Linked DNA regions of Homo sapiens. The protein of the gene in region 7 interacts with the protein of the main gene of each other region in a pairwise test. Each region holds a gene or a part of one and is shown on either strand. Other genes may lie near its edges. The genes, in order: KIF1A, BEND5, NDE1, DLX2, ARNT2, DLGAP2 and TSPOAP1.

The links.
Region 1: the proteins of TSPOAP1 (region 7) and KIF1A interact in a two-hybrid assay, tested with the Homo sapiens proteins (one large-scale study listed by BioGRID).
Region 2: the proteins of TSPOAP1 (region 7) and BEND5 interact in a two-hybrid assay, tested with the Homo sapiens proteins (one large-scale study listed by BioGRID).
Region 3: the proteins of TSPOAP1 (region 7) and NDE1 interact in a two-hybrid assay, tested with the Homo sapiens proteins (one large-scale study listed by BioGRID).
Region 4: the proteins of TSPOAP1 (region 7) and DLX2 interact in a two-hybrid assay, tested with the Homo sapiens proteins (one large-scale study listed by BioGRID).
Region 5: the proteins of TSPOAP1 (region 7) and ARNT2 interact in a two-hybrid assay, tested with the Homo sapiens proteins (one large-scale study listed by BioGRID).
Region 6: the proteins of TSPOAP1 (region 7) and DLGAP2 interact in a two-hybrid assay, tested with the Homo sapiens proteins (one large-scale study listed by BioGRID).

What each region holds. Positions count from the first base shown.
Region 1 is NC_000002.12:240,719,220-240,722,719, reverse strand, and holds part of KIF1A (kinesin-like protein KIF1A), read left to right. Parts: intron 1-63; coding exon 64-264; intron 265-835; coding exon 836-913; intron 914-1,681; coding exon 1,682-1,806; intron 1,807-2,793; coding exon 2,794-2,946; intron 2,947-3,500.
Region 2 is NC_000001.11:48,731,892-48,735,391, forward strand, and holds part of BEND5 (BEN domain-containing protein 5), read right to left. Parts: intron 1-3,500. UniProt on the Homo sapiens protein: Acts as a transcriptional repressor.
Region 3 is NC_000016.10:15,688,245-15,691,744, forward strand, and holds part of NDE1 (nuclear distribution protein nudE homolog 1), read left to right. Parts: intron 1-2,899; coding exon 2,900-3,079; intron 3,080-3,500. UniProt on the Homo sapiens protein: Required for centrosome duplication and formation and function of the mitotic spindle. Essential for the development of the cerebral cortex.
Region 4 is NC_000002.12:172,100,101-172,104,145, reverse strand, and holds the start of DLX2 (homeobox protein DLX-2), read left to right. Parts: upstream 1-1,245; 5' UTR 1,246-1,607; coding exon 1,608-2,007; intron 2,008-2,499; coding exon 2,500-2,684; intron 2,685-3,201; coding exon 3,202-3,603; 3' UTR 3,604-4,045. UniProt on the Homo sapiens protein: Acts as a transcriptional activator. Activates transcription of CGA/alpha-GSU, via binding to the downstream activin regulatory element (DARE) in the gene promoter.
Region 5 is NC_000015.10:80,578,882-80,582,381, reverse strand, and holds part of ARNT2 (aryl hydrocarbon receptor nuclear translocator 2), read right to left. Parts: intron 2,353-3,500; exon of another isoform or gene 1,972-2,352; coding exon 1,833-1,971; exon of another isoform or gene 1,144-1,832; coding exon 978-1,143; exon of another isoform or gene 1-977. UniProt on the Homo sapiens protein: Transcription factor that plays a role in the development of the hypothalamo-pituitary axis, postnatal brain growth, and visual and renal function. Specifically recognizes the xenobiotic response element (XRE).
Region 6 is NC_000008.11:740,628-744,127, forward strand, and holds part of DLGAP2 (disks large-associated protein 2), read left to right. Parts: intron 1-3,500.
Region 7 is NC_000017.11:58,318,796-58,322,295, reverse strand, and holds part of TSPOAP1 (peripheral-type benzodiazepine receptor-associated protein 1), read left to right. Parts: intron 1-1,714; coding exon 1,715-1,765; intron 1,766-2,166; coding exon 2,167-2,187; intron 2,188-3,001; coding exon 3,002-3,206; intron 3,207-3,500. UniProt on the Homo sapiens protein: Required for synaptic transmission regulation. It probably controls the recruitement of voltage-gated calcium channels to the presynaptic membrane, and modulates neurotransmitter release.

The DNA.
Region 1 (3,500 bases), on a different chromosome or scaffold from region 7:
TGAGCACAACTCCGGAGGTCACCCCTGAGGTGCAGCAGGTAAGGCCTTGTGTCCTGTCTGAAGGTGGAGAAGACTAGGCACTACCTGCTCCTGCGGGAGAAGCTGGAGACCGCCCAGCGGCCTGTCCCGGAGGCACTGTCCCCGGCCTTCAGCGAGGACTCTGAGTCCCATGGCTCCTCCAGCGCCTCCTCCCCGCTCTCGGCTGAGGGCCGCCCATCACCCCTGGAGGCTCCCAACGAGAGGCAGCGGGAGCTGGCCGTCAAGGTGGGTCCAGCTGGTGGGCAGTACAGCCGTAGCCCCAGGCCCTCAAGGGCCCTGAGTCATTTCTGGGCAACTCCAGCAACCCGGCCTTGCCCATGGCTGCTCTGGTTAGCACCACCAGGAGCTAGGAGCTTGAGGGGTCCCTAGGGTCCCCTTGCCCACTGACTGCACCCCACCTGCACTGAAAGTTGGGTGCCTTTTGCAGCCTCCCTTCCCAAGCGATGAATCACTCTCTTGAATACCTGTGCTGATGGGGAGCTCACCACTTCCACCCACAAGTGGCTCTTTTGGCGGCTGAACGGGCCTCTGGGAAGGCTTCCTGCGCCTCCTGCACTGGAGGCAGCACAGCCTCTGGCCCTCACACCAGGCCCTCAGCCGGTGCCTGACCCTGGGAGACTTCCTGGGCTCACCCGATGACCTGGGCGGGGTGGAGGTGCTGCCCACCTTGACCCACTGTGCTCTGGCGTCGGAACCCACCTGTGTCTGGGGAGGGGTGGGTAGAAGAGCCTGCAAGGCTGTCTGAGCAGGGTCCCGGGAGGCCTGGCCCCTGACCACGCGTGTGCTCTGTCCACAGTGCTTGCGCCTGCTCACGCACACATTCAACAGAGAGTACACACACAGCCACGTCTGCGTCAGTGCCAGCGAGAGCAAGGTGGGTGCAGAGGGGCTGCACCAGGCTGCCCCGCAGGGCTCGGGCTCCCATAGGCAGTGGTCCCTGAGGAAAACTCCCATTCCAAGTGGGAAAAGGCAGTTAAGAGTTTCCTAGGAACACGTCTCAGTGCAGAGGGACACCTCATACCTAAGTGGCTGGTTTCCCTGGGTCGGCCTGGGGTCCATGGGAGGTGGGGATGTGAGTGAGGGGCCGGGTGGGTCCTGTGGCCTTGGATGCACCCATGCACTTGCAGGCTTCTGCTGTCTTCCTGGCCCCCACCCTGTCTGGCCATCACCCTGTGGCCTCTGGCCCAGTCAGTCAAGCTCCCACTTGGCTGTCCCTCCTCCTCCTGGGACCGACCCCACCCCTGTAGCCTGGGAAACTGCTGCTGTGCTGCATTATGCGTGGAGCTCCAGCCCTGGCCCATGGCCTTCCTTGTCCCCATGGCATCACCCAGCGCCACCTCACGCTGGCATGGGCAGGAGGCGGCAGGGCAGAGCTTACCCAGCCCACTCCTCGAGGCATTGGCAGGGTGGCTGCCTGGGTCAGGCCAGAGCCTGAAGTGATGGGAGGGGCCGGCCAGGGGCCACAGGGGCTGGAGGGGGCCGGGGGTCTTGAGCTGGCCAACTTTGAGCCAAGGCTGCTGGTAGGAGGGGTGGGGTGCCCTAAGCAGCAGGTGTGGGGTAAGCGCAGGCACAGGGAGCAGCTCCCACAGAGGCCGGAGACCCCCCTTCCCTGTGTCCCCTGAAAAAGGCCTCTCCTCCGCAGCTCTCCGAGATGTCTGTCACCCTGCTCCGGGACCCGTCGATGTCCCCTCTAGGGGTGGCCACTCTCACCCCCTCCTCCACTTGCCCCTCTCTGGTTGAAGGGCGGTACGGTGCCACTGACCTGAGGTGAGTGAGCTCCAGGCTCCCGGAGTGGCTTCTGGCACCACGGCTGACCCATGACCATGGCCGTGACTCGGGCACAGAGAGCACAGAACAGGGGGCCCCAATGGCCGAGTGCCTTGGGGTGGCCACAGGCTGAGGGAAGGGCCTGGAGGAGTGGAGTCCGCAGCCCTCTCAGAGGGTGCCTGTGCCCCGCCAGCTCCATCCTAGTGTGTGTGTGTTCTCTTCCCTGAAGAAGACCAGAAATGGGTGGAAAATAAGCTAAAGCTCCCCTTTCCTGAGACAGTGCTTATAAAATAATGGAAAAAGAAAAGGTTACGAAAGAGGGCATGAGAGCCGTTAGAGTCAGTATTGTGGAGGGGACACCTGGCCCCTGCAGGTCCGCATTTGGAAGAGACCTCGTGTGAACCCCTTATGTACAATTCATAAGCAGGCAGATGCTTTTCACTCTTGTTTTAAGCGCCTTAAGGGTTCCAGATTTTCATTTAAATAAGAAAGACGGTGGCATCAGCTGGCCTTGTCTTCTGCAGGCCTCCTTGACCACCAGGTCGAGTCGCGTGGGGCCTGGCCCATGTGGGGGGCCCATGCGGGAGGCCATCGGCACCCTCTGCTCCAGTGGCTCCTTGGAACCTCGTGTCACCTTCAGTCTAGTTGTGGAGATGAAGAGATGCTGGACTTGCTTTCACAGGGTGGAGGTGGGGGCAGGAGAGCCACTGGGAGAAGGGCGTGGAGTGGGGCACAGGCTCCCTGGCTGGGCCCCGAGGTTCCTGGGGGACCCTGCCCACCAAGCCCAGCACTTCCTGGAATCGGGCACAAGCTTGGCTATCCTGGTGGACGGGCCCCGGGAGCTCCCACTGTGGGCACAGCTGGAGAGACCCTGCGAAGGTGCCCTACTGCACCTTCTGAGGTGCTCTGAGGAGGGTGAAGCCTGGGGGAAGACGGCCCCAGGCCCAGGGAGGCCTGCAGTGGGCAGCACTTCCCTCTGCTTCCCAGGACCCCGCAGCCCTGCTCCCGGCCAGCCAGCCCAGAGCCCGAGCTGCTGCCAGAGGCCGACTCCAAGAAGCTCCCTTCCCCTGCCCGGGCAACAGAGACAGACAAGGAGCCCCAGCGCCTGCTGGTCCCTGACATCCAGGAGATCCGAGTCAGGTGTGTGGGGCCTCCCTGGAAAGCACCGCCACCAGCTCTGTGCTGACAGGGGACAGGCAGGCCACCCTGCTCCCCATACTGGGGGCACAGGGACCCTCATACTTGGGGAGACAGACAGGTTGCCTGATGCCCATACTGGAGGTTCAGGCAGGCTGCCCCTGACCCACATGGAGGGACAGCTCCATGCTGGGAGGTCAGGCAGGGCCCTGTGACCCACATGCCTAGGCTGGGAACCAGCACAGAGCACAGGGGAGTGGGTGGGGTCAGAGCCAAGGCCCAGGTGGGGAACTCGTGGTCACTGGGTACAGTGTGACAGCCTTCAGCAACTTTAGCTTATTTCTTTAAGTTTTTCCATTTTATGGTGGGGAAACTGAGGCCCAGAGCTGGCTTGGTGGTCTGGTCTCCGGCCTGCTGGGTTGGGGTTCTGCCAGGTGCCCTTCGATGCCTCGACCCACTTTCTGGCTGGGGAGGTGGTTGGCACTGCTGCGTCCCAGCTCTGGGTGGTAGATGGTGAGTGCCCGAGTCAGTCGCTGCCCCCACCGAGGGCCCCAGCG
Region 2 (3,500 bases), on a different chromosome or scaffold from region 7:
TCTGGTTTCTGAAGATTGCTCTGGTTACATAATGGAGAGAGGAGTCTGGAAGCTGCCAGAGTAATGGAGGGGAGAAATGAGTGTGGGCTATGAGAAGGGCAGTACTGTGGAGAGATGCAGATGGTTCTCTCCATATTTGGAAAAAGTAGAGAAACTTTAAAATGGCTTAGAAAATGGGGGAGTGGATCAGCAGTGGTTTAAGAGAGATTTGGGGCCAAACAGATGGGTAGTGAGGGATGTGGAGGAGTCAAGGATGAGACCTGGGTGCCTGGCTGGTGGTACTATTCACCAAGACAGGGAACATAGAAGAGGCAAAGGCTTCACAGAGAAGGAGAGGAAGAAAGAGAGAGAAGTGAGCAGTGCAGTTTTGCCAATGTCATGTGGGCATCTGTGAAGAGATAACCAGTGGGCACTTTGATCATAGATCAAGAAATCAGAAGTGTGAATTGAGTCAAATACAGATTTGGGAATCATCATTCATTGAATCAACAAATATTTATTGAGCACTTACTATAGGCTAGCCCTGAACAAGATGCTCATAAAGTTTAATTCTAATGGAAGTGGGAGAAGAAAGAAAATTAACAAGTAAAAAAAGTAAATAGGAAATGCTATGCAGAGACTTGGAGTAGGGTGATGTGACAGACAGCAATGGAGAGGCTACTTTAGACTGAGTGGCTGGGGAGGCCTCTCTCAGTGACAGGGAGGGAGGGCACGCAGATCAGGAGCAAGGGAGTAGCAACAGAAAGGACCTGGAAGAAGGCCTCCAGGGCTACAGCACAATAGCAAATGGGAAGTGTGGTATAAGATGAGGTCAGAGGCGTCCCAAAGGCAGATCATCTGTAACAGGTGAGGAGTACAGATTTCAACCCAAAGTCAAGGGCACACTGAAGGCAATGGGAACAATAGGAAGTGAGGAGAGAAGCTGAGGAGTGCTTGGTAGGATCAGCGAGAAGATGGCTGGACACAGAGGAGAGGGCCCATCAAGGAGACTGAGAAACCAGAGAGATGGGAAGAAATCCCCAGCGTGCAGAACAGGTTTCTCAGTGAAGGAGGAATGATCGTGTCAAACAGTGCCAGTGAGACTGTGAGAAACACACAAGGATTTAGAGACGAGGAAGTCACTGGGGACCTTGGTGAAAACACATTAAGCAGAAGGCTGGGAGGGGAAGGCAAATGGCAAAGGCATTACCAGGGAACACACACAGTGGGTGTAGCTCGTCTTTCCAGGAGCCTGCATGTGAAAGAAGGGAGATATGATAGCAGCTGGGTGACAGAGTGCCCTTTAAGGAGGGTTTCTTTGCTTTTGTAAGAAATGAGTGATCAAATATATTTACATGATGCTGGGAAGGAACCAGTAGTAGAGCAGGAGCATAACTGAAGGAACAAGGTACTTAGGAAGGCAGGTGGACTGAAATCCAGAGCCCAGATGGAGAGAATCACCAGCCCCAAATAAGGAACTCCTTTGGGACAGGAGGCAGGAAAATGGAGGACATAGTTAAGTCTGTAGGTGTGATGCCTCAAAACTGTGGAAATTCCTTTATTTTCCTCTGTGAAAGAAGAGACAAGGCCTATCTCTTTGATTGATGCGAACTATCATATTTGGAAAAAGTAAAAAAATTTAAAAACGGCTTGGAAAATGAGGTAGTAGATCAGGGAGGGAAACTCACACAACTTGGCAGATGATGCTGAGTTCCAGCTGGGGTTGGAGCTAAGGAGTGTGTAATGGCCCAAGCCACATGCATGGCTGAGGTGTATTCTTCTACATTGCTGCACTGCTACAATCCTAGGCAGCCCTGACTATCTTACGAGGTAAGATGATTTCAGCTTAGTTTTCAGCTAAGAAATCTGAAACATGGAGAGAAAGTGATTTACAAGAAATCACACAAAATTTGGTCAGGCGATCAGCTTGTGGGTCTCTGTGTTTCTTCTGTTCAACCTTCGTTTACTGAGTGCCTACTATGTGCCAGACACTATGTTTGGAAATGAGGCCACAGAGATGAATCAGATACAGTCCCCAGATCCCTGAAGGAGACACACAGCAGATGATTTTATACCATGTGATAATGGCAGGAATAGACAGTTATCTGAAGGCACCCAGGACCTCCTGAGTCACGTTCCAACAAACATAGCAGAATTAGAGGTCGGTCACCTACCAGGCAGGGCAGGGCAGGGCTGCATCCCCAGGATGGCCTTTTTCTCAGGGTGACCTCCCAAATCAGGCTTTACCATTTCAGACAGCAGCAAGACGAAAGGTTACCTCTGATTATCCAAAAATAAGCGGCTGCCTAAATCAATTAATCCGGAGTCAGCCAGGCAAGGGAGGCAGCTATGTTACAGCAGAACAAGCCCCAGACCAGAGTCGGCGGGTGTGTGTTTGAATCTAGGCTCTGAAACCTTATAGCTTTGACCTCAGGCTGGTTGCTTACCCTATGTCCTGCCACCTTGAACTCCAAAATACACCCTACACTTGGGCATATTTCTCCACCTCCACTGCTGTGCCCTTAGTCTATGGCAGCAGCATCTCTCACCAAGAGCACTGTATCAGCTTTGTAACTCATCTCCCATGTGGTCACTCCATGACTGGAAGACCTCCATTGCCCTTTGACTCCAGCAAATCCAAGCTGCTTACTGTGGCCTTCCCAGCCCTACAAGACAGGCTCTCGCCCACCTCCCTGACCTCACTCTTCCTTCTACATCCCAGCCATCTGGGGCTTCTTCACACCCGGAGCATGCCAGCCTTCATACCTGCTGCTTATTCTGCCTGATTTGCCACCCCTCAGACCATTATAAAGATGCTTCTTCCACATCCAGATTGCAGCTCAAATGTCACCTCCTCAAACAGACCTTCTCCAACTACCCCAGTGAATGCAGCCCTCTCTGTCCTACCACATCATATGAGCAAGCTCACAGTACCTGAAGTTATCGAGCTTGTTCCTGGACATATTTGTTGTCTGCCCCCAGAGTCTGCTGAAAACATATGTGTTGACTGACTGAGTCTTACTTTCTTTATGAAGACATGGCAGACCTGGACACTAGTCAGTGGTTAGGAGCACAGATTCTGAAGACAGCCTGCTGGCTCGGGTTCCTGGCTCTCCTCCCACTAGCTGTATAACCTGGTCAAGTTACTTAACATTTCTGTGTCTCAGTTTCCTTGTCCGTAAAATAGGAATTATAATAGTAGCCAACAGTAGGGTTGCTATGAGGATAATGAGTTAACATACATAAAAGTGTTTTTTAAAAGAGAACCATTTAACAAAAACCCCTAAATCCTGAAACACAGTTAAGTGCCTAAAATAATTAGCAACTACTTTATTCTCTTTGCTCCCTCTACACCATGGTCTGTCTCTATAGTTTGTGTTTTCTGTAGAGTAACTAGTTGTTTTTGTGTTTATCTTCCCTGTGAGAATATGAACTCCTTGCAGATGAAGGCTGTGTCTTACCCCTCTTTGTGTCTTCAATACCCATTAGAGGGCCTGGCAAAGAATGGATGGATGGAGGGA
Region 3 (3,500 bases), on a different chromosome or scaffold from region 7:
TTGATGGCAACCAATATATTTGGCTAAAACTTTGAAACCTCATCAGCATTTGCTCTTTTTCAGTTGGCACTTCCAGAGGTAGAATGTTGAAACTGTAATGAGGCATTTGGCCAGGCACAGTGGTTCACACCTGTAATCCCAGCACTTTGGGAGGCTGAGGCAGGTGGATCACCTGAGCTCAGGAGTTTGAGACCAGCCTGGACAACATAGAGAAACCCCATCTCTACTAAAAATAGAAAACATGAGGGTATGGTGGTGGGTGCCTGCAATCCCAGCTGCTCAGGAGGCTGAGGCACGAGAATTGCTTGAACCTGGGAGGTGGAGGTTGTAGTGAGCCAAAATTACACCATTGCACTCCAGCCTGGGTGACAGAGTGAGACTCTTGTCTCAAAAAAAAAAAAAAAAAAAAGACATTCATTAGTGGATTGTCCAAGTTGTTTTTACCTTTTTTTTTTTTTTTTTTTTTTTTTTTGAGATGGCGTCTTGCTCTGTTGTCCAGGCTGGAGTGCAGTGGTGCTATCTCTGCTCACTGCAACCTCTGCCTCCCAGGTTCAGCGATTCCCCTGCTTCAGCCTCCTGAGTAGCTGGGACTGCAGGTGTGCACCACCATGCCTGGCTAATTTTTATATTTTTAATAGAGATGGGGTTTCACCATGTTGGCCAGGCTGGTCTTGAACTCCTGACCCCAGGCGATCTGCCTGCCTCGGCCTCCCAAAGTGCTGGGATTATAGGGGTGGGTCACTGTTGCTGGCCCAATTAATTATTTATAACGTCGATTTGCTTTCTAATGTGTAACCAGTAGGTGGGGGATAAAAAGTAAAAATTCTTAAGTTTAATAAAGTAGTTGTTCCTAGATGTCCATCAGTAATGAAGTGGTTAAATGAAGTACATAGATGTATTTTGTGAAATGTTAATGGTTAAAATGAACAGTAGATAGAAATGTTGTGGTAGAAAGATTGCCAAGGCTAGGCACAGTGGCTGATGCCTGTAATCTCAGTGCTTTGAGAGACGGACGCAAGAGGATTGCTTGAGCCTAGGAGTTCAAGATGAGCCTGGACAACATAGTGATACCCCATCTCTACAAAAATGAAAATTGTAAAAATTAGGCCTGGTGGCATATGTCTGTAGTTCCAGCTACTTAGGAGGCTGAAGTGGGAGGATGACTTGAGCCCAGGAGTTCAAGGTTACATTGAGCTATGATTGTGCCACCGCACCCCAGCCTGGGTGACTGAGTCAGACCCTGTCTCTAAAACAAAAATCATTGCCAAGACATACCACTGAAGTGGGGAGAGTAAGTCATACACAGGACAACATATTGTATGTTTCCAGTAATGCTTAATAAAAAATTTTCTTGTTTTATGCTCAGTAGATACATACATATGTATAAAGTTTATGTTTGAAAATGGAGAGAACAGCTGGGCGCAGTGGCTCACGCCTGTATTCCCAGCACTTTGGGAGGCCAAGGTGGGTGGATCACCTGAGGTCAGGAGTTAGAGTCCAGCCTGGACAACATGGTGAAACCCTGTGTCTACTAAAAATACAAAAATTAGCCAGGTGTGGTGGTGCGTGCCTGTAATCCCAGCTACTTGGGAGGCTGAGGCAGGAGAATCACTTGAACCCGGGAGGCAGATTTACAGTGAGCCGAGACTGTGCCACTGCACTTAAGCCCGGGCAAGAGAGTGAAACTCCATCTCAAAAAAAAAAAAAAAAAAAAATTCAGAGAACAATGGTTGAAAAGCTCTCCCACATGTTATGGTGATGATGAGTGAGGAGGAGCATTTGGGGATAGTCTGGAAAGCATACTTTATTTATTTTTGAGACAGTCTTGCTCTGTCACACAGGCTGGAGTGCAGTGGCGTGATCTCAGCTCACTGCACTCACTGCTTGTCCCCCAGGCTCAAGCGATTGTCTTGCCTCAGCCTCCCAAGCAGCTGGGACTACAGGCGCTCACCACCACGCATGGCTAATTTTTTGTATTTTTAATAGAGACGGGGTTTTGCCATGTTGGCCTGAAAATTCCTGACCTCAAGCAATCCTCCCATCTCGACCTCTCAGAGTGCTGGGATTATAGGCTTGAGCCAGTGCAACTGGCCTTTTTTTTTTTTTTTCTTTTTTTTTTTTTTTTTTTTTTTTTTTTGAGCCAGAGGTCTCACTCTCGCCCAGGCTGAAGTGGTATGATCATGGCTTACTGCAGCCTCGACTTACTGGATTAATGTGATTCTTACACCTCAGCCTCCCAAAGTGCTGGGATTACAGGCATGAGTCACTGCTCCCGGGCATATTTTCATTTAGTGTTCTAAATACACTGCTATGTTGGAATTGTTTTTTCAATAATAAAAGCATTAGTGTGTCACTGTCATAGCTTTTTAAAAATCTGAAACCATTTTGTTAGTCAAGAGAAACATCCTGTAGAGTTCCAAGTCTGCTAGGCAAGGTCCTGTGGGTTTCCCTTTATTTGGGGTTTCTACCTGGAGTGTTTCACCCCAGTAGGTCTTTTTTCTGACTGGTATCTACTGTTGAACCTCTCTCCCTGCACCCCACCAACCCTAAGCAAGGACTTAAATTCCCTTTTTGTTTTTTGAGACGTAGTCTTGCTCTTGTCACCCAGACTGGAGTGCGCTGGAGCAATCTCAGCTCACTGCCACCCTGGCCTCCCAGGTTCAAATGATTCTCATGCCTCATCCTCCTGAGTAGCTGAGATTACAGGTGCCTACTACCATGCTGGGCTAATTTTTGTATTTTCAATAGAGATGAGGTTTCACCATGTTGGTCAGGCTGGTCTCGAACTCCTGACCTCAGGCGATCCACCTGCCTTGGCCTCCCAAAGTGCTGGCATTATAAACATGAGCCACTGCGCCTGGCTGAGGACTTGAATTCCTGAATCCTTTTTCTGGCACAGATTTGCGGCAGGAACTGGCCGTGCAGCAGAAGCAGGAGAAACCCAGGACCCCCATGCCCAGCTCAGTGGAAGCTGAGAGGACAGACACAGCTGTGCAGGCCACGGGCTCCGTGCCGTCCACGCCCATTGCTCACCGAGGACCCAGCTCAAGTTTAAACACACCTGGGAGCTTCAGACGTGGTAAGGGGAGTGGGAATTGCAGGATTTTCTCGGTTCACAAAGTGTTTCTGGGTAAGAATCTGGGGTGGGTCCTGGGGGTGTGATGATTTGCATCAGGCTCAGAGCCTGATTTGCTCTCAGGCTTTGAGCAGAGAGTAGACTGGGATGTTCTTGGGGATGGGCATTGAGATCAGTGAGGACTGGGTAAGAGGCAGTAGTGGAGTCTGATGAAATGGAAACCCCACCCAGAGCGGGTGGCTGCCACTCTGCAGCTACGAGGATTGGCCCTTCATCTGCAGCTTTTTCCATTCTTCAAAGCCAGAAATCCTCTTTTTTTTTGTTGGGTTTTTTTTTTTGAGACAGGATCTCACTCTGTTGCCCAGGCTGGAGTGTAGTGACGTGATCTTGGCTCACTGCAACCTCTTCATCGTGGGCTCAAGTG
Region 4 (4,045 bases), on a different chromosome or scaffold from region 7:
ACAATTTTGTGGCTTTTAATTACTATTTTGTTCTTTTGGGGGGTTTCAGAGGCTGGCGCCTGGGCGTGATTAGACCGTCTACCCCGCCCCCCGCAACCTCGCACACTGCCCACCAGGTGGCGCCACAAAGCAAGCGCTGCCGCAGGAACTTCGGACTTGGGAGTCCAGCAAGTCGTGCAGTCCATCACCGTCGGGCCAAGGTTTCCAACTACAAGGTTATAGAGACAGAGGAAGTCACCATTTCCGATTTTTTAAAAAACAGAGGGAAAAGAAAAAAATTGCAATGATAGGGTAGAACAGGGTCCTAAAATGCAAAACTGTAAAACAGGATTAAATTCAACAAACCAGATAAAACTTTTTATATTTGTTGTAAATTTACAGAGAAGTGATAAATCTAGTATCTACTTGATAAATCTATAATCTCACCTATTATCCTATTTCCTTTTTCGCAAGAGCATCGAATTTTCAAGGACAACTGGTGAACCTTTCCACCCGAAGGAGGAAGTCCTCGGGATGGCTTTCAGGGTGTCATTTACTTATCAAACGTATATAATTACTCAGAGTCTCGCGTGTCGGGAAAGTACCAGGGAAAGTGGTTTCAAATATACTATTAGCAATAATACCTTTAAGTTTATGTAGCTTCTCTTTGAAGCAACAAGGAAAACCCGTTTCAATATTATATGATTAATTGTCCTAATATCCCTGCGGATTGGTTAAGAAGCGAGCATTACACGTGGTTTGTGGATAATTAAATCAATTGATTATGTCAAGTGCCGAGTGGCTAACAAGAATAAATGCCAGACACTTCGAGGAAAAGTGAAGATAGAGCTGGCTGGACTCTGGGCACCGATGTACTTTAATGTGTTTGAAAACTGACCTCGGACATGAAAGTACGAATCACTGGAACTGGCACTTGCTCACAGAATGGGAGAGGGGACCCCACTTCTTCCTCTGAGGCAAAACGCCAGTCTGTCTCCACGCCTTCTGTCTTCCTGCTGCGGGCCACCCTGACTCCTCGCTACCTCGACCCCTCGCCTCGCTGCTCACATTCGGCGGCAGTCTGTTTGCACCTGGGGCCGCTGCAGCCGCAGCCGCAGCCACAGCGCCCACCATGTGACGCCCGCCCCTTGGCCGGGCGTTCCCGGAGCTCCGCGGCCGTTTGCTTCTGATTGGCTGTTGCTAGGTGACGTCGCCAGCGCTCACGTGACGAGTGTTAAATGCCCACACTTCAGGAGCCCGCCTGGCAGACAATCGTAAAGCCGCTCGGGGCCGCTCACCTGCTCCCGCCTCCCAGAGCCCCGACCCGGCCCAGCCACCCCTGCCCCCTCCACTGCCCGCCCCCCGCCAGAGCCCGCGCTCGCGCTGGGCAAGGAGCCGAGCGGGCCCAGAGGCCGAAAGAGGATGCGACCAGAGGCAGCTGTCCCGAGCAGCGCACGGTGATCGCCTCCCCCGGAGGAGGAGGCGCCTAGACGGTTGCCTCCTTTCTTGTTTCCCCACCACCACCCCCGTAATTACATTGGCTGCTGGAGGGGACCGGGAGAGACAGAGGAGGCGCCTGGCTTCCCCCGCACGCCCGCCACCTCTGCTCTTTCCCGTCTCGGGCCAGGATGACTGGAGTCTTTGACAGTCTAGTGGCTGATATGCACTCGACCCAGATCGCCGCCTCCAGCACGTACCACCAGCACCAGCAGCCCCCGAGCGGCGGCGGCGCCGGCCCGGGTGGCAACAGCAGCAGCAGCAGCAGCCTCCACAAGCCCCAGGAGTCGCCCACCCTTCCGGTGTCCACCGCCACCGACAGCAGCTACTACACCAACCAGCAGCACCCGGCGGGCGGCGGCGGCGGCGGGGGCTCGCCCTACGCGCACATGGGTTCCTACCAGTACCAAGCCAGCGGCCTCAACAACGTCCCTTACTCCGCCAAGAGCAGCTATGACCTGGGCTACACCGCCGCCTACACCTCCTACGCTCCCTATGGAACCAGTTCGTCCCCAGCCAACAACGAGCCTGGTATGCATAACGCTGAAGTCAAGAGTGCCGAGTCGGTCTAGTTAATGGGATGGATGGGTAAACGTGTTTGGGGCGGGGGGCCTTCGAAAGCTCTGGATTTTCACGCTGCCTGCTCACCGCCCGCTTGTGCCCTTTACCCTCCCCAGCCTCCAATCTGCCGCAGGTCGCCGGTTACGTCCCTCTCTCCTTTGGTAGGACCTGGTGGCCTCAAGAGCCAAGTGGGCGTGCTCTGCCTGCCTCATAAGGGCATCTCCTTGCCACCAGCTTCTTTCTCTTGGGTGTGCACTTGTCTCCCCCTTCCCTGGAGGGTACAGCTCCCGGGGTCGGTGGCGGCTCCGATCGCACGCTGCGAAGTTGCGCCTGCCCGTGGCGCCACAGTTCAGTGCACCCACCTCTTTGCTCAAGCCAAGTCCCCCCCGCCGGGCCCTCTAGGAGGGCGGGAACTCCAGGACCCCTGGGTTGCGCTGTTCTTACGATTCTTTATCGTTGCAGAGAAGGAGGACCTTGAGCCTGAAATTCGGATAGTGAACGGGAAGCCAAAGAAAGTCCGGAAACCCCGCACCATCTACTCCAGTTTCCAGCTGGCGGCTCTTCAGCGGCGTTTCCAAAAGACTCAATACTTGGCCTTGCCGGAGCGAGCCGAGCTGGCGGCCTCTCTGGGCCTCACCCAGACTCAGGTGGGGCTCGCGCCCTGCAGGGGCGAGGAGAGCGCGGGCCTGAGATGGCTGGGAAGCAGGCGGGTTTAGGACAATGCTTTTTAAAGTTCATTTTAAGTACTTTTAAGGATTTCCAGGCCTGCGCCTCGAGCGGCCCTAAGTAAGCTTCTAGGCCCAAAGCTGGAAACCCCCAAGGGGCCGCCGTGGGAGGGAAGGAAAGGGACCGGGTGGACAGAAATCCCGTACCTCTCGCTACTGATTAAGCGGGTGAAATAACTGGCCCTCCTCACCCTCCCGCTGTCACCATCATCACAGTGCACGTACACCAGCAGTCCTGGCCTTTTGGCAATTACCTCCCCAGGGAGCAGGAACCGGCAGAGCCTCGAAGGCCGCCGCCCGTGATCCTCTTATCTCCCCAGGGCGCTCGCTGCCCACCGCTAGCCAGCGGTTTTTCTCTGCCTTCTTTTTTCTCCTCTTCGAACCCCTACTGCCCCAAGACTAGGTTCCTCCACTAATGCTCAGGTCTTTTTCCTCAAAGGTCAAAATCTGGTTCCAGAACCGCCGGTCCAAGTTCAAGAAGATGTGGAAAAGTGGTGAGATCCCCTCGGAGCAGCACCCTGGGGCCAGCGCTTCTCCACCTTGTGCTTCGCCGCCAGTCTCAGCGCCGGCCTCCTGGGACTTTGGTGTGCCGCAGCGGATGGCGGGCGGCGGTGGTCCGGGCAGTGGCGGCAGCGGCGCCGGCAGCTCGGGCTCCAGCCCGAGCAGCGCGGCCTCGGCTTTTCTGGGCAACTACCCCTGGTACCACCAGACCTCGGGATCCGCCTCACACCTGCAGGCCACGGCGCCGCTGCTGCACCCCACTCAGACCCCGCAGCCGCATCACCACCACCACCATCACGGCGGCGGGGGCGCCCCGGTGAGCGCGGGGACGATTTTCTAACCCCAGGGAGAACTCGCCAGAGACTGAGAGCAGAGACCACTTATCCTCATTGCTTACCCCGAGCCGGGGTTCCCTCCTCCCGGCCCGCTGCCGCCACCCACCTCTCCTGCAGGCTGCGACCTGCAGTGGCCCGTCTCAGGCCCTGCTCACTCCCGGGGCCACCAAACGGGCCCCTCTCTCGGGGGAACCGGACAGCAGCTTGGCAAAGGCCTCCCTAAAAGGCCGCATTTCTGACCTGAGCCCCGGGTCTCGGCTGTTTCGAGCCCCGCCTCGGACTTGCCTTCCCTCCCCTCCGGGTGAGCCTGTCTGGCGCCTTCCTCGCCCCGGGCTGAGAGCTGGGTCCCGGGAGATGGAAGCCTCCCAGGCGCGCGAGGCTTCCCGGGCGCTCTGAGGCTTCTTTCTCCTCGCCCGCTCCCCTGGGCTCAGCTCGGACGCTGCAGTT
Region 5 (3,500 bases), on a different chromosome or scaffold from region 7:
TGGAATTACAGGCATGCACCACAACACCTGGCTAATTTTTTTTTTTTTTTTTTGTAGAGACAGGGTTTTGCAATGTTGCCCAGGCTAGTCTTGAACTCCTGGGCTCCGGTGATCTGCCACCTTGACCTTTCAAAGTGCTGGGATTACAGATGTGAGTCACCGCGCCCTGCCTGCACAGAATTGTTCATAAGGCTGACAGACAAGCAGTTCTAATGGAAGCTTTTAACTTGCCACGTGGAAATTCAGATGTTTGGGCTCAGATTCACGCTCATCTGAGGAATCAATTCTGTAGAGAAAAGCTCTATGAGCCGCACTGCTGGGTGTCACCCAGTGACCTCACTGTGAGAAAGCAGGCACCAGCTTGGACTTCTTACCAGGACCACGGGTCTCTTATGAGCTTGTCCTGACGTGGAGTGGAACCCTAGCCCTGGGAGACATGCTGAGGAGGTTCCTTACACACACGGAGAGTGGGCAAGGCCCAGGATCCTGAGAAATGCACAGGACACAGCGGTTCCTTAACCCTCTATGGCCTGAGGTTTTGTTAACAAAGTAAGATAGGTGTTTTTAATATTTAAAAGAGACAGAAAACTTTGCAGTGTTATTTATGCAATTGATTGTCTCTATAGCTATTCTCTAGTTTCTTGAAACAAGACTATAAGGTTTTTGACTTGGGGGACCTGAAAATCCTTGCCAGGGCCATAATGGGTTAAAATGGTATTCAGATCACCTCACAGCACAGCAACATCATCCCAATGCCTTGAAAATGATAAAGTCAAATCACAAAGCCAAGGCCTAAGCATCCAGTCTCTTAGGAACACCATAGGCCTCCTCATAGCCAGAGAGAGAGGAGGTGCTTGGAAACCTCCAGACCTTGTTTTGGTAGCTGGGAGCTTGGAGCTCAGCCTCCTGAATTCAGGCTGTTCAGAAAGCATTTGTGCTGGCTTTCCCAGAATCTCACTCCCTCATTCCCCACCTACCGAACCCTGGAGTCCTGTTGGCAAGACTGGAGTAGGCATTCCCACTTGGCGAGGAGGTAGCTGGGCTGGAGAGGGGGCTGTAGGAAGAGGGGTCTGCCGGGTAGGTGTGGCTCGTTCCAATCCCAAAGGGAGATGACTGAGTCTTGCTGGACTGAGATGGGATTTGCTACAATCAGGACAAAGCAAAGAGATGGAAAGCATCACCAGCAGACCCCTGCACCCCAACCGATGCCCCAGGCTGGTCGCAGGGGCAGTGCCTGCTCTGGGTTGACAGTGACTCCCCATGACCCTCTTGTCTGGCTAGGCACAGGCCTGGGATCAGCCCGGTGTGTGAGGGCCCAGGAACTGCAGGATCTTTGGGGCACGTCTGGTTGAAGTTACTCCCCAGGGCTACGAGGATCCGGGCCCTCTGGAGTCTGGTTACCAAGGCCTTGGCATTATGAACACCTAGAACTCCCTCAGCCCAATCAACACCCACCCTCACAGTGACTATGAGGGTCTGGGGATGTCACAAGGGTTGGTGGTTTCATGCCCTCCTGGCGCAGGGGCAGCCAGAGGTCCAGAGTAGTGAGGGGCTCATTCTTGATGAGGTGTCTCAACCTGCCCAACCTTTCCCTGCCAGCTGCCTCAGGGCATGGCTGTAAGGAGAAAAGGCTGCTGAAGTTGCAGGCTGGGCACCTGGCTCTCCGAGAGCCCTGAGGGTGGATGGTGCTCCTGAGTAGCCAGCTGCTGTTAGGGTGGTTGGTTCCAGCTAGGAGCCGACCCATCCTCAGAACCGCAATCCAAAGAAAACACTTCCCAGAGTGCTCTGCCTCTCTGGTCACCCAGGGGAGATGCCCTCACAGATGCCCATACCTGTCCCGGAAAGGGCGGACGACTCCCTGTCCATGCCACCTGACTCTGGTTTAGCTGCCGGGAGATTTGGGACATGTTCTGGCCCGTGGAAGAAGAGGACTGAATATCATTCACTCCAGGCACATGAACCACTGAAGAGCTAGAAAAGAGGAAAATGCATTTATCCCGAGGACACACCTGGTTTGCATGAGTCTACGTGCCCAGCCAACCACACAATCTGCCCTGGGCCATCTTCCTGGCTCTCTCTCCATGCAGCACGTCACTAGAGAAAATGACTCACACATCGTGAGCCTCAAAGCCCCTTGGCCGTCCTCCTCTCCCTTCAGGGCTTCCTCTACACTGCTGAGTAGTCCTGCCATGTCTAGTAGTCTGGTACTTCCTCTCCTCGTTCTCCCCAGGGTCTCCCACGCACTCTTCAGCCCCTATCCTATGCCTGTACATCCTCTGCTCTCAGCAGATGATTTGGTTCCCAGAAAGAGAGAAGCTTCTTAGAATAAAAATCAGTCCCACTGTTCACTCACTCTTTTGTGCTCTGGTTAATTTGTTCCTTTGGGGCACCTATGAGGCTTAAGGATTCAGGAAATAGGTTGCAGGCTGTCAGTTTTAAACGGAAAGAAAAGCTTCTCAATGAAAACCTGCTGGATGGGGCCTAGTCCTGCTACCCAGAGTTTACCCCTCCCACCTTCAGTTCACCTTCGACTTAACTCAGTTTGTCTTTATTAGGCCCCTGCTGTGTGCCGTGCTCTCTGCATGGCCTTTGCAGGCTAAATCTCTGACCCTGCTTAGCTCCTCGGCAGGCACTGTCTGTACCACCAGGCGCTTCTTCCAGGAGATTTTCCAGGCTATGTCGATTACATGAGAAGCTCATCAAAGACTAAAAGGCTGGGGGCAGACTTTTACTTTGTTTCAGGCCCCTCCTCCTGCCTCCCTGGGACTAGCTCAGCATGCAGGGCAGTGCGCTGGGTGCCCATGAATCAGTCAAGTAGGGCAGAATGGGGCTCATCACAGAAGGCTTTGGTAGATTTTCAGCTCCGTGTTAAAAAAAAGGCAAGCCAGAGATCAGCAGAGATTGGGTAAAATTTTACTATTGTATTCTAATAAGTTTCCTATGCTATCTGATCCCTTTTAAAATAGGGAGAAACCAAGAATGTCAGAGACATTCTTGAGCTGATCATTGTAAAACAAGTTCAGTGGCTTATATAAAGGGGACATCATTTCTGTCTTCATACAATCAATTCCTCATTTAACATAAGGGCTCCTTTCCCATTCTCCTTCCTGATGAAAGTATTGCTTCAGAGGACATTTTCTGGTCACTATTGTCTAGTAGGACCCTCTCCACAGCCCCCAGCCCTTGGTGTCCTCCCCAAAACACTGACTGATGAGGGCCGCTACAGCGTAGACGGTCCTAGGAAAGGCGCCTTGGCAGAAAGGGATGGGCTTCTTGGGGCAAAGCGCCAGCCCTTGTGCACAGCCCTCCCTGGGGGCCTCTGGGCTACAGCTGCCTGCCTTAGTGTGGACAGGCAGGGGCCAAAACTGGCGGGACCAGAGAGGGAGGACTGTGGGTGAGGATGCACTTCAGGTGCCAGCAACACCATTCTGCAAGCGGCCCAGGATTCCCTATGGCTGTATTGGGCCCCAGAGTCCTTCATCCCACAGCCTACCCCATCC
Region 6 (3,500 bases), on a different chromosome or scaffold from region 7:
AATTCTGAAACTAAAGTGCTCTAATATCTTTTTAAGGGTGAGAGGATTTTGTTTTGTTTTATTTTGAAGATATCATCTTCCATAATGTTGAAATTGAAGAAATGCTATAATTTTTTTATTATATAACTGTATTTGAGGAAAAGCTTCATGACTCCTCAGTTATCCAAGGAGTTGAATGATGTATACTTTGATTATAGATTTTAAAATGAAGTTGATTAAATATTCTATTTATTGACCCTCAGGATGGATGCTCCATGGTCATTCATTGGATACAATAAAAATAACTATGATTCATCATTTTGGCCAGATGGGAGTCATATTTAGAGCATTGCCATCATGTTGGTTATAAAAGAATTACAGGCTGCCATACAGGAAGTTAGTAGGCACACTTTCTATGCAGTTAAAAATTATTCTTAATCAACCGTAGTTTTACCAACTAGTTTTCATCATACGAGGCTTTCTAGTGCCACTAACTTCTTCAATATGTTTTGTTGTTTCCTGGGTACTTGTGCGTACAAAAACTGAGCATAGTGATTTCACGTGTGCTCATGACAAAAGACTTTAATTTCTAGGGAAGTTAAGCAGATGGGCTTTGGCATTGACCAGGCATGGGGTCGTAGGGTGTGCAAACTCTAGTTTAAATCTTGCATCTACTGGTAGCCACCTTTCCCTTCCAAGGCTTAACAGCAGTAACAAATTAATCTCCTCAGCAAAGGCAGTAGGAGCTCATTTGTAAAGCTCTGTTTTTCTTTTTTCATGTCATTCTTCTGTGCACTGACTTCATCTGCCTATGAAAATCTTCTCCCAGTCCTCAGGTCATGGGCCTTGACATGCAGTCCCTTAACTTTAGCTCCAGGAGAGGGGCCTGGGTGTTCTGACATCCCGGTGATGGGTGTCCGCTGCAGGTGCACCTCTCCTGACTTGATGGCAGTGTCTTCATGTGGGATGTCAGTTGCCTTAGTTCTGGAAGTGTCCTGTCTGTATTTATTGGCGGGCCTTCAGGAGTTGAGCTTTCTAGACCCGTTACTGCAGACTCCAGTGTATTTGCAGTTCAGTGTACGCTTCCCTTTCCAGGCAGCAGCCAGCTCCCCTTAGGGAACACCTGCCACCTCATGGGGTTGGCTTGGCGGACCCTACTTCCCGTCAGAGGTGGCTCCTGACTGGCCGGAGCCCTAACTCCCTCTCAAGAGCAATTGGATGAGTGAAGAGCGGGAACTTTCAAGGAGAGGAAAGCTTTAGGAAAAACAGCGGGAAAGGTGTAAGGCCTGCAGTTGTGGCATCAGTGCACAGCCTTGCAGGGATGGCCTGTCTGGAAATGACACCTTCCTCATCTGTCTGTGGAGGAGAAGGGCGGCTGTTATGCAGAGAGCTTGGTCCTGAGGATGCTGTTGGAAGCTCTGAACTAAGTTATGCCTGAACCATCATTACCCCGTGACTTTCAGTTACATAAACCAGGAGATTGTTTCTTTGAACTGAGTTTTCTGTCCCTGACAAGCAAATGGGATGTATGGGCTTTTAGTTTCTTCAGACATTTCCACATTAAACCTCTTGTTGCAGGGAAAGGCTTATTCATCTTCGGGTACTGTTTCTTATATGGTACATCGTGTGTATCGGCAGGAAAAAAAGAGAAAAATTTAAATCAACCATTTTAAACAATGAATAAACATTTGGAAATAGCCCATCTGTAAACTTGTGTTAAAAATTTTTAAAGTAACCTGTGAATCTGACTGATCGTTGTCTTTAAAATGTTTCATACTCTGTACAAAAGAAGAAAAATGGGAATGATCTCAAGGGTCCATAGAGTATGTATTTTAAGTTAGGCGGTATTGAAAAACATCCTTTTGTGTGTAACGAATGTTTGTCCTGTGACTTTTGCACAGCATTGCAAGTGGCTTTTTAGAGACAGGGTCTCCCTCTGTCACCCAGGCGGGAGTGCACTGGCATGATCATAGCTAACTGCAGTCTTGACCTCCTGGGCACGAGTGATCCTCCCACCTCAGCCTGTCTAGTAGTTGGTGTATGTCACCGCACCCAACTAATTTTTACTTTTTTTTTTTTTGGTAGAGACGGAGGTCTTGCAGTGTTGCCCAGGCTGGCCTTAGATTCCTGTCCTTAAGGAATCCTCCTGCCCTGGCCTCCTCAAGTGCTGGGATTACAGGAGTGAGTCACTTTTCCCAGCTGCATTTGGCTCTTTATTTGACCTCACCGTATTTCAGTTTTCTCATCACTAAGAGTGGGGCCAATGCAATATTAACTTGATAGGGTTAAGGAGGATTAAATGAATTCATGACTGTAAAGTGATAAGAATGGTGCACGTAGGAAATGCTGGATTAGTCTTGACTATTTTTATCATGAAAAAATACAATTGAGGCCTACTTTGAGTCAGTCCACAATGGAAGTTATCAAGCAACTCTTTGATTTCTCTCAAAACTGTTTTATTTATTATTTCTGGTCTTGTTTTACTTTTTTGTATATCTCTTGCCACTTTCCAAAAAGTTTTGGACCCAACTTAACCACAGAAGGACAAGGGAAAAAATGCTAATTAGAAAATAGAAATAGAAAATCGGAAGAAACACATGTGATAACCATGAGGATGGATGTAATTCTCTGGGCATCACGTTTGACACTGAGCTTCCAGGGAGTCAAGTCAACAAAACCCAAAACTACAAAGCCATGTTCAACCTGAGGATCATGCTTTCAGGGTAGACGTTGCATACTCATTTTTTGGTGAAGATAAATTTTCTCTGGCACTAACTTGTAAGAGATGTTCTGAGGGTAGATCTTATATTCAGGGGCTGGGGTTGTGTAATATATAACAGTTAAAAATACAGAAGTATTTTTTAATGATTTTGTCTTGATTTGGTTTCTTTGAAATAAACCAAAAGCAAAACTCACATGCACAGCCTACCCTCAGCACTGATGACCTCTTCTTGGTATTTATTTACTTACTTATTTAGAGACGGTCTCACTCCTGTGTTTCAGGTTGGAGTGAGTGGCATAATCTCAGCTCACTGCAGCCTTGACCTCCTGGGCTCAAGCGATCTTCCCACCTCAGCCTCCCGAGTAGCTGGGACTACAGGCGTGCACCACCACACCCAGCTAATTTTTTGTATTTTTAGTAGAGATGGGGTTTCACCATGTTGTCCAGACTAGACTCTGACTCCTGGGCTCTAGCCATCAGCCTACCCCAGCCTCCCAAAATGTTGCGATTGTGGGCATGGGCCACTGCGCGATGCCTTTTGCTGGTATTTGCATGTGATTTCCGTGGCCGGGTCTTCATGTCTGGATCACTCACTAAGCTACTGTGGTTTAGGGCTGAAGACGTGGATTCACGTCGTGTGTCCTGCAGACAACAGCAGTTTCTCAAGTTTCACGTGCCTTCACGTTTCCTCTGAGTCTTTGCATCTAAATGCCCAGACACCTGTTTTAGCTGAAGGAAGTGACTTGTTCTGGTGGCCGTGGCAGTCTATGGATGGAGCCATCATCGTGGTTCTCTCAGA
Region 7 (3,500 bases):
TGAGGGAAGCTGGCAGGCTGCTGGACACCAGCTTTGCCACTCACTCATTCCACAAGCATTTACTGTGTGCCCGGCACTGTGCTAGGCGTCGGGGAGACTGTGGGGAACAAAGACCAGGTCCCTGAGCAGTCAGCAAATTAGCATCCAGGAGTGAGCTGATTTCAGACACTGATGAGCACAGTGGTGGAGAAGAACAGGGTGATGTGACAAAGTGACTGGGATGGGGTGAGGAGCCACTTTAGAGGTCATCAGGGAAGGCCTCCCTGAGGAGGTGACAATTGACCTTGCCAGCCAGGAGGTGTAGACATGCACATGCTCTGTGGCAGGGAAGAGCTGAAGAAGCCTGAGACCAATGTGGCTAGAATACAGCAAGGGATGGGCAGCGTGGTGGGAGTAGACAAGAACCCGATCCTGTCGGGCCTTAACGGCCATGGGAAGAGTTTGGGTATTTTGCTCTGTGAGTAGATAGAAGCTCCTGAAAGATCCTAAGTGGGGGAGTGACATGATCTGAGTCATAATTTTACAGGATCACATGGCTGGTATTATGGAGGGTGGACTGTGGGAGCAGGCGTGGAGCAGGGCCTGGGCGGTGGCCTGGGAGGGAGATGGTGGCTGTCTGGACAGAGATGCATGCAGTGGAACGGGAGACAAGTGCCTGGGTTTGAGTTATGTTTTAGAGATAGAACTGACAAGGTTCTGGCCGGGCATGGTGGCTCATGCCTGTCATCCCAGCACTTTGGGAGGCCAAGGTGGGTGGATCAGTTGAGGTCAGGAGTTCGAGGCCAGCCTGGCCAATATGGTGAATCCCCGTCTCTACCAAAAATACAAAAATTAACCTGACATGGTGGCGGGCCCCTGTAGTCCCAGCTACTCAGGAGGCTGAGGCAGGAGAATTGTTTGAACCCGGGAGGCAGAGCTTGCAGTGAGCTGAGATCGTACCATTGCACTCCAGCCTGGGCGACAGAGCGAGACTCCATCTCAAAAAAAAAAAAAAAGAATTGACAAGGATCCCCGTGGGATTCCAGTTGAATCCCTTCTCTGACAGCCATTTGCTGTATAAACCTTGGTGGAGGGTGGGGCTCTTCATACTCCGTGAGGTGAAGGATGAAGGGGCAGCAGATCTGAGAGGTAGGTCATCCCGAGTGCTGAGTTCCATTTGGGCCATGTCTGAGCTGCGCGTTAAACATTCAAGGGGAGCTGTCCACAGGCACTTGGATACATGAGCCTGGGGTTATGGGTAAGTTGGTCTTGGAGATATTTGGAGCCACCAGTGTGTTTAGTTGTATGAGTAGATGGGAGCCCTAGGAAGAGAGTAGACAATATAAACTGGGCCCAGCACTGGGTCCAGGGTAACCCTAACATTCAAAATGGGGGACAGGGAGCAGGCAAAAGAGGCTGAGAAGGAGCATCCAGAGAGGTAGGGGGGAAACTGGGAGGATGGTTGCTCAGGAAAGAGGGGAGCTGACTCAGCCACGCTTCTCCTGGTCCCCTTTGCCTTCTGGTCTAAGGTATGGTTCAGGGTGGGTGTTCAGGAGGGAGAAACCCTTCGGCCTCCCCCTTCCCTATCCCTCTTCCCTCTCTCCCTACCCTTTTCTTTCTCCCGGCTTCTTCCTCCCCTGCCTCTGTCCTTTCTACCCTTCCTCCCTCGCAGCCCTCTCTACTCCACCCCATTCCTTCTCCTTCCCTCCAGTATTTTGGTTCCCCCCACCTGTAGGCCCAGGCTGAAGCCCAGAGGGAACATGAAGGAGCCGTGCAGCTGCTGGAGGTAGGGCGCCTGGAAGTGGCCCCCAGTTCCACCATCTTGGGAGGAAGGCGGGGGTCCTCCAGATAGAGCTGAAATGGACTATGGCGGTGGGGAGAGGGGTTGCAGGAGGGGCCCTTAAATGCTCCAGGACCTGGGGGAGTCCCCTCCACCACTGGCCTATTTCTCAGGGTGGGCACGGCTGGGCAGGGGGCTCCCAAGTCTGGTGGCAGCAGTCTCCCATTGCTGCCACCCCCAGAGGCTGCCTTCACCCTGAGATATCCTTCCATTTAGGAACTGCTAGTCAGTCCAGGGAGCTGACTGGATGATATCCACTTAGGCCCCCTTCTCCGCCTCCCTCTCTGGGTTAGCAACCCACAGCGCTCAGGGTTCTAACCTGTTCTCTGCTTCCTTTCCTGCAACAGTCTACCTTGGATTCCATGCAGGTAGCGCCTCGTTCTCCACTTCCCCACACCTCTCCAGGCTGGCTGAGTTGCATCTCCTCCCTCAGGGCCCAGGCAGTCCCCCTCTCTCATCCAGCAGAGGGGGTGTCACTGGGAGCAGGCATGAGAATCCATAGGGGGTGGAGTTCCCACAGGACACGTGCGGCTGTCCCCTTGTCCCAGGCCTGCCGCCGTGTCTGTCAGACACTGGGCCTCCCCTCTCTAGCCACCCTGATCATGAGGAAGTTCATCACCAGTCTAACTTAGGAGCCTCGCCATAGTGGCCGGAGAGAGCCCCTGCTATTGGGACTCTCCTCAGACCTGAGAAAACTTCCCGGGCATTGGCCCATTCCCATCACGAAGACATCCCTGGCTCCCCTGTGGAATTTCCTGCCCGCCTCTCTCAGGGAACGGGTTTGAGTTGCTGATTGTGGGAGGGTGATGAGCAGTGGAGCTGAGAAAACTCCTGCGGTGATGGTGGTGATGATGGGGTGGGAATGATCCCTGTTGGCCTAGAAAGCAGCCAGAGGCAGAGGTGCCATCGCCTAGGGCCTGAGGGTTGGTGAGTGTGTGGCAGGCCCCGGCCTTGGCTCTGGAGGGGGCTGGGGTGAAGATGTCCCAGGACACAGCCCAGGACTTCACCCTCCGCTCTGATGCATTAAGGACAGTGGGGTGGCCAAGGCAAGGCTGGTGCCCAGGCCTGGGGCTGGGTGGATGGATATGACCTGAAACCCAGTGTAGGGCTGTGTACAGATGGCACGGGCTGGCACTGGGTAGCTTTGAGGGGCCTGGCGGCTCATGGTGGGTCTTGGCCCAGGCCCGGGTTCGAGAGCTCGAAGAACAGTGCCGCAGCCAAACCGAGCAGTTCAGCCTCCTGGCACAGGAACTCCAGGCTTTCCGCCTGCACCCGGGCCCCTTGGATCTGCTCACATCTGCCCTGGACTGTGGGAGCCTTGGAGACTGCCCACCACCCCCCTGCTGCTGCTCCATTCCCCAGCCTTGCCGGGGGTCTGGCCCCAAAGGTAAGGTGGACCCCAGTGGCATTGGCCTGGAATCCCCAGGCCTGGGCTTTTGGATAGAGCAGGGAGTTCAGGATCAGAGAAGGCCAGCAACTCATCCAAAGTCACACAGCAGGTTAGAGCTGTGCCTGGCTAGAACCACGTTCTGTTGGGGAAAAATAAAGCCCAGGGGAGTGACTGTCCCAGAGTCTGGCCCAGGCATCGTGGGCCACTGCTCCTCTCCTTCCAAAAGGACCTGAATGGTCAGACCTAGGGGTTGGGCACTAGGAGTCAGTAGCAGGCAGTGTGGCCTTGTGC